Homo sapiens: one gene and its partner. The protein of the gene in region 1 purifies or fractionates together with the protein of each later gene. This does not show direct contact. Each region holds a gene or a part of one and is shown on either strand. Other genes may lie near its edges.

Region 1 (3,821 bases):
AAATGAATAAATAAAAAATAAGTAGAATAATTTTAGATACAGTTAAGTGCTATAAAAGAACATAGAGATTGGCAAACTTTTTAAAGAGAGCAGATGGGAAATATTTTAGGCTTTGTGTACCGTTGTCACAGCTACCCAACATTGCCATGGTCGTGTGAAATCAGCTGTAGACAGTAAATGAATGGACAGAGCTGTGTTCCAATAAAATACTGTTTTCAAAAACAGATATTAGATTGGATTTGGCCCATAGGCCATAGTTTTCTGACTCCTGCTATAGAGAGAGTGACTGGCAATAGTGGTAATATATTTCTATTTAATCTACAAAGATACTTCTTTTTTTCACTTGTTGCCTATTTTTCTCTTTTTTTCTTTTTCTTTCTTTCTTTCTTTTTTTTTTTTTGAGATGGAGTTTCGCTCTTGTTGCCCAGGCTGGAGTGCATGGAGTGCAGTGATGCAATCTCGGCCCACCACAACCTCCGCCTCCTGGGTTCAAGCGATTCTCCTGCCTCAGCCTCTCGCCGAGTGGCTGGGTTTACAGGCATGTGCCACCACGCCTGGCTAATTTTGTATTTTCAGTAGAGACGGGGTTTCTCCATGTTGGTCAGCCTGGTCTTGAGCTCCCGCCCTCAGGTGATCCGCCTGCCTTGGCCTCCCAAAGTGCTGGGATTACAGGCGTGAGCCACTGCGCCTGGCCTGGAATTACTTTTCTAACTTTGTTTATGCCTGAATCAAAAACGATTAATGAAATTATATCGTCATACATAGTATTGTATAACTTAATTTTTTAAGAAGCAAATATGGCATAATAGCTGAAAAAAAAGGTTCTGTAGTAAAGCTTAACTATGAATGCCATCATCAATCGAACTATAAAACAGGGACAATAACAATGCCTCACTTAACTGGGTTCTTGTGGGAAGTAAATGTGATTATATTTGTGGAGCATCTAGCATAATGGAACGTTGTAGTAAGACCATAATTATTCATTTCTGTCTCAAGTATATTCTTGCAAATACAGCACTTATACCTAGTTTTAGAAATTTAAGGGAATTGAAATGTTCTCTTGCCTCATGGCCATCTCCACCCATTCCCTTCACTTGTTGCAGATGATCTTACCTTTTACTCTCTAGATAAAATAGAACCTACTTGGGATGAGTTTTTTCAGTTTTTTCCAATTACAGTTGTACTCGTGTTTTCTACATTCTGCTGGTCTCAGAGGAAAAATAGACATATTCAGTGTCTGCTACCTTCAATCTTTGTCCTCCCCTCCAGCCCATGGCCAGTTTTCTTCCAGGACTTTGCTCCAGTAATTTTCATCTCTTTCCTATAGCTTTAACCTAGTATCTGCTTCTGTTCAGCCCTCAAACATGGTCAGGTCTGTCCCATCAGAAAACTATACCAATCTGATCTGGAATCTGGTAGCTTCTTCAGCCTCTGCCTGTTCTCTTTCCCTTTGTGCTAAGCTTATTTAAAGAATATTCTGGGCCGGGTGTGGTGGCTCACACCTGTAATCCCAGCACTTTGGGAGGCTGAGGCGGGCAGATCACGAGGTCAGGAGATCGAGACCATCCTGACTAACACGGTGAAACCCCATCTCTACTAAAAATACAAAATATTAGCCGGGCATGGAGGCAGGCGCCTGTAGTCCCAGCTACTCGGGAGGCTGAGGCAGGAGAACGGCATGAACCCGGGAGGTGGAGCTTGCAGTGAGCCAAGATTGCGCCACTGCACTCCAGCCTGGACGACAGAGCAAGACTCCGTCTCAAAAACAAAAAAAACCAAAACAAAACAAAACAACAACAACAACAACAATATATATATATATATATATATATATATATATATATTCTGCACGTACTGCCTTTCCTCATCCTACTTTGACCACTGGAACTGTTCTTCCAAAGGTCAACTCTGACTTCCTAACAGCTTAATCTACTATTGTGAATGGTTTAAGGTCATGGATAACCAGGTACACACACATTTGTGTCTTTTCACAATGTCAGACTTTTATTGTGTTATTTCAGTTATAAAAGACAAGTTACATGGAGTTCTCAAGGAGGCAATTTTTATTAGTACTTCTCATTCACTAGGTAGTCAGTCAATATTGTAAATCATATATAATAGTATACCTAATTAATACATAAATGATGTAGATTAAACATTCTGCAACAAAGTAACATTGAACATCAAGAGAAAAGGGTGAGGAAAAAGGGTTACCTAACCAGTCCGGGGAGAGTGATATAGACAAGTATCCTGGTTTCATCATGGCAGTGTGTTGGTCTTGTAAGAAAGAATCCTTGATGTGGGCAGAGCCTTTGGACACAGATATCAGGCTTTTATAACAAGTGACAGCAAGACAGTGTCTGTTAAGACCATTTTGAGTTTTTTAAGTCCTGTTCTTTTTATGGTCACAGAGTCTTCTGGTAAGGACTGATAGTGGAAGAGCATGCTTGGTTGTGTCTTTATCTGGAAAAACATCTGGTCCCTGTTGTCAAAGTGCTTTTTGAAATGAAAGATAGGAGTCTTTTTCTAAGATGGAGTTACTTATGTCAAGAGTGCTCTATACATCTACTGACTGTTTTTGCATTCTTAATTGATTCCAGTTCTTTGTAAGTATTCTATACTGTTGACCCTTCTACCTTTCTGAAGCTCCTTCTGAAAGAGCAGTTGGTGTTTATTTTTTACTAAATAGCAATTGCTCTTTTGGAAGGAACTTGAGAAGACATTACTCCTTTTAGGGCCCTAAAATTAACAGTGGTTTCTACTACTAACAGATACTATAGCTATAAAGGACATGTAGAAACCAACAATTGTTGAGTGCCACCTGTGTGCCTGGTATGATGCTAGGTGCCAACCATAATTTTTTGTTTTTGTTTTTGAAACTCAGTCTCGCTCTGTCGCCCAGGCTGGAGTGCAGTGGCGTGATCTCGGCTCACTGCAAGCTCCGCCTCCTGGGTTCACGCCATTCTCCTGCCTCAGCCTTCCGAGTAGCTGGGACTACAGGTGTCTGCCACCACACCCGGCTAATCTTTTTGTATTTTTAATAGAGAGGGTATTTTTTTTTTATACAGAGTCTCGCTCTGTCACCCAGGCTGGAGTGCGGTGGCACGATCTCGGCTTACTGCAACCTCTGCCTCCCAGGTTCAAGTGATTCTCCTGCCACATCCTCCAGAGTACCTGGGACTACAGGTGTGTGCCACCACTCCTGGCTCATTTTTGTATTTTTAGTAGAGATGAGGTCTCACCGTGTTGGCCAGGCTGGTCTCGAACTCCTGACCTCAAGTGATCCACCCACCTCAGCCTCCCAAAGTGCTGGGATTGCAGGTGTGAGCCACCATGCCCAGCTACTTTCCATAATTTGATTCTAACTTCTCATAGCAACCTTGACAAATACCGGTCTCAAAATTACAAATGAGGAAATTGAGACATAGAGATTTGAAGTTACTTATGTAATATATACTATACTTGGGACGTAAACCTATATTTTATCCCTAAACACTCGAGAGTGTCATCCATGAGGCCATTTGTGTAACTTGCCTATCTGTCTGTGTATGTATGAGTTAGCTTGATTGTTATGTCAGGGAAAAGACTTACATTAACTCTGATGAGGTGAATAACATTTTTAAATATGAAAGCCATTGTAAGTGGCTTTTAATCTTTAGAATTTTATTAGCTCAAACCACAGAAAACATCTTAGGTGGTTTTTAAAAATTTTTTTAAATTTTTATTTGTTTTGAGACTAAGTCTCACTGTGTTTCCCAGGCTGGAGTGCTGTGGGATGATCACAGCTCACTGCAGCCTCAATCTCCTGAGCTCAAGCCATT
Region 2 (3,821 bases), on another chromosome or scaffold:
GCAGAAGTCAAAGGTAAGAGAGGTCTCTCAGATTGCAACTTAGGTCTCCTTGATTTCAGACATGCTTTCTCTTTTATATGTTATTGCAAGAACATCACAAAGGAGCTATATGTGTTTATTTGGTGCAATTGAAATGCTAAACAGGTAGTAAATACACTGCAAAATCATGCTGAAGTTCATTGCAATGAAGACATCTTAAAGGACTCACAGGTGCCAGTTGTAGGGTCCCTACCAGAGAGGGCTGGGAATTGCACACTCTTAGGGAAGGGAAAACCAGTGAAGTCTTGCCTGTGTCCACTGGGCTTATACCCGGCAACCAGCTGCTGCATTCCTAAGAACACCCAGCAACCAACCTGCCTCTCTCCCTTTGTGCTTCCACATCCTCATTCTGAATTTAGATCAGAACAAAGAGTAGAGAAGGAAATGAGCCAGAAAATAGAAAATTAATACTTGGTAAAATCATCATATTTTAAAATTAATTTATAGGCAATGTCAGATAACAGGAGTTAAATCATTTTATCAGCAGGCTGCTCTAGGATTTAAAAATTGGCATCCGTCATTGTAAATCAGGTCTCAGGAGCCCCAGGGAATGGTCTCTAGGGATGAGGGCTGATGGCTGGGCAGAAATGTAAACACTTGACTGGCTGTGCCCTTTTATTTCACACAAAACCTAAAATATTTTTACATCACATGGAGTGGTTAGGGTGTGTTAAATAGTAACTGGAGGGAAGAAGCTATTGAGGTTTACAGTTAGCCTGCTTTTAATGCTTATCTTCCTCCCTGTTGGTCCTGGGAAACTGGTTGTGTGAGAGATGCTCATTTTGAGGTTGCATTCCTGGCTCATTATTTAAGGGTTAGGCTTAACCTTCTGCATAGATACATTTTCCCTAGTAGTTTGGCTGTCACGTTTCTGCCATGCCTGTGAGCAGGAGCATCCACAGGTTTGCCACATTTGTCCTGGGAAGACTTTCTGTGATTAAAGACCTGCCTTTCATCTTTTATCATTGCAGCTCTTTGCCGAGGGCGTGTGGTGAGAGTCCCCACAGCGACCCTGGTTCGAGTGGTGGGCACTGAGCTGGTCATCCCCTGCAACGTCAGTGACTATGATGGCCCCAGCGAGCAAAACTTTGACTGGAGCTTCTCATCTTTGGGGAGCAGCTTTGTGGAGCTTGCAAGCACCTGGGAGGTGGGGTTCCCAGCCCAGCTGTACCAGGAGCGGCTGCAGAGGGGCGAGATCCTGTTAAGGCGGACTGCCAACGACGCCGTGGAGCTCCACATAAAGAACGTCCAGCCTTCAGACCAAGGCCACTACAAATGTTCAACCCCCAGCACAGATGCCACTGTCCAGGGAAACTATGAGGACACAGTGCAGGTTAAAGGTACAGTCCTCACATGGGCTTGTTATGCCAGGGGCCAGACCTTTCTCTGCCCCTGGGCTGTGGTGGACTTTGTCAAGAGACTTAATTTCTCTGAGGCTCTGCTCCCTCCTCTGTCCAGGGGAATAATCATGTCTTAAATAATCATGTCTTAAAATTTAAAAATCATTGTTATCTGATTAAAGGCAGGGGATGGGCCAGATGACCTCAGAGGGCCCTTTCTCTTCACTCCGGTATGGTTCTGAGCCACCCTATGCCCAGTGAGGTGGAGGCAGCATGATGCGGTGGTGGAGAGCTGGCTCTGGAGCCAGGTTGCCTGTGATTGTTTGGTCCAGTTGCTGGCTCTACTACTTGTCAGCTGCATGGCTGTGGGCATGTTACATGCCTCAGCTTCCTCCTCTGTAACCTTAAAGGTTGTGAGGACAGCTGAGTTACCAGGTGTAAAGCCTTAGAGCAGTGCCATGTAAGCATTCAGTGGTTAGTGACAGGAAGGGGATGGTCATGTTAATGATGCTCAGGTTTATGGGAATCACAGGCACTTCAAAGTTCATGTCTTTCTCTGTGGCTTTCATGATTTAAGTACTTGTTTGTACCAGATGTTTTATGTGTTATATGTAATGTGGTCTCTGCTAGCTTATTGACCTAGCTTTGCAAATATTACACCTTATGTACCTGGAATGTTTTGGGATTTGTTTTGGGGGTTTTGTTTGTTTGTTTCATTTTCCAAGTCCTTTTAGATTTACTCACACATTCAATTCTCTGAACCCAATCAAAATAGGGCAGAATATTTCCCTAATTTATACATGAGGAAATGGAAGAGCATAGGTTAATTACTTTCCTAAAATCACACAGCTAATTAGTAAACGAGCAAGAACAAACCATTTTAATTTGGGGCTAAGAAAATAGAAACATTATAATTGTTGTTATTGTTACTTAATTATGCATTTATTTGTACCCTGCCTTGTTCCCAAAAGGATTTATGTCTGGGTCAGAATGTATGTAATTATCAGAAAGTAGAAAATGCACATGATGATATAAAAAGCGAGGGTTGATTGAGGCATTCATTCCCTCATGACTTGTAGAACCCTGCCATAGCTCAGAGACTGTTCCCTCACTAGACTCATCAGGGGATAAAACTGTCCATTAAGGAGGTAATGAAACACCCCATCTACCTCTTTATTCCTATAGAAAATTCAGAACATGTTATTTAGAAAAAGACACTCTTGTATTGGAGCTAAATATTGCCACATGCCACTTTTTCATTAAGCCAGATGCCCCCTTGTATCCCCTTGGAGTCTCCTCTTGAGTGGGAGGGAGAGTAAGGGGAGAATTCCCCCACCCGCACCCCACTTCCTCCAGTATCTTTCAGCCTCTTCTGCTGTCTTTGGAAGGCAGGAGACACAAGAGGAGGCCTTTCTTGGGTGAGGAAAGCAATGGATGACCATGAGAGAGACTGACTGCTGCCCAGGTGGAGCCTCTGATGGTTGCCATGTGTGGTCCAGGATCTGCCCGGCCTTCAGCTTCATGGCTCTTGAAACTATTCATCTGTGCTCTGAGAGATGAGCTGGCCTTGAGAACTGAGTCATATTAGCCAGACTCACAGACTGATACATATACTAGAAGGTCATTATATTTATTTTGCAGTAGAGATGGGTCTTCAGGATGTGTCCTCCTAAAAATGTAGCAGCTTTTAAATGTTATCTAGAATAGCCCCTTCTCAAGGACACTGAATTAGTTTCTGAATATGGAATTGGGGGGAAAAAAAAACAGATGATGAATAGTGGTGTTGGAGGGTCCTCTTAGCCAGCTCATGGATAAGCCTGATAGATTTTTCCCTGCTGCTTGGTAGTGGCCCCCTTTCTGGTTACCAGAATAGCAGTATCCATCTACTGCTTTTTTCCTGAGTACACCACCCATACTTCCTTGATCGCCGTCCCCTTTTTCTAGACTCTGTAGAAGTGTCTGGGCCTGTTCCTATCATGTGGATATGCTGTGTTCACCCTAGACATTCTTGGGCATTCCCCAGGCTGCAAGCCACAGGCAGCTCATGCCATCCTTTCTCCCCTGTGGATCTTGCTACTTTAAGTCTAGAAGGTCACCTTATCTGCAGATTCTGCGGGCTCCCTAGCCTAGCCCTGGTCCTAAGCAAAGAAATGTTTGACAGTCATACCCAATGATTTATCATGACAGCTGAGTGCCAGGCACGGTCCTGGGAACTTACCCTGTTTAACTTAACTCTCATGTCAACTCTATGACGAAGGTCCAGTTGTCATCCTCCTTTTAGGAAACTGAGGCACAGAGGGGTAAAGTAACTTGCCTTAAGGGTAGCAGAAGCACATCACATCCCCAAGGCACGACTCCCACAGGGAGTTTTTACCACCCACTTCTAGCATGGGGTTTTTTTGGTACCTTTATTTTTCTTTTTCAAGTCAGAAAGTCAATTGA

What was found.
Region 2: the proteins of SLC25A17 (region 1) and PTGFRN purify together in Homo sapiens (affinity purification with mass spectrometry; one large-scale study listed by BioGRID and IntAct). This does not show direct contact.

What each region holds. Positions count from the first base shown.
Region 1 is NC_000022.11:40,812,778-40,816,598, reverse strand, and holds part of SLC25A17 (peroxisomal membrane protein PMP34), read left to right. Parts: intron 1-2,640; exon of another isoform or gene 2,641-2,716; intron 2,717-3,821.
Region 2 is NC_000001.11:116,940,705-116,944,525, forward strand, and holds part of PTGFRN (prostaglandin F2 receptor negative regulator precursor), read left to right. Parts: intron 1-1,010; coding exon 1,011-1,379; intron 1,380-3,821. UniProt on the Homo sapiens protein: Inhibits the binding of prostaglandin F2-alpha (PGF2-alpha) to its specific FP receptor, by decreasing the receptor number rather than the affinity constant. Functional coupling with the prostaglandin F2-alpha receptor seems to occur.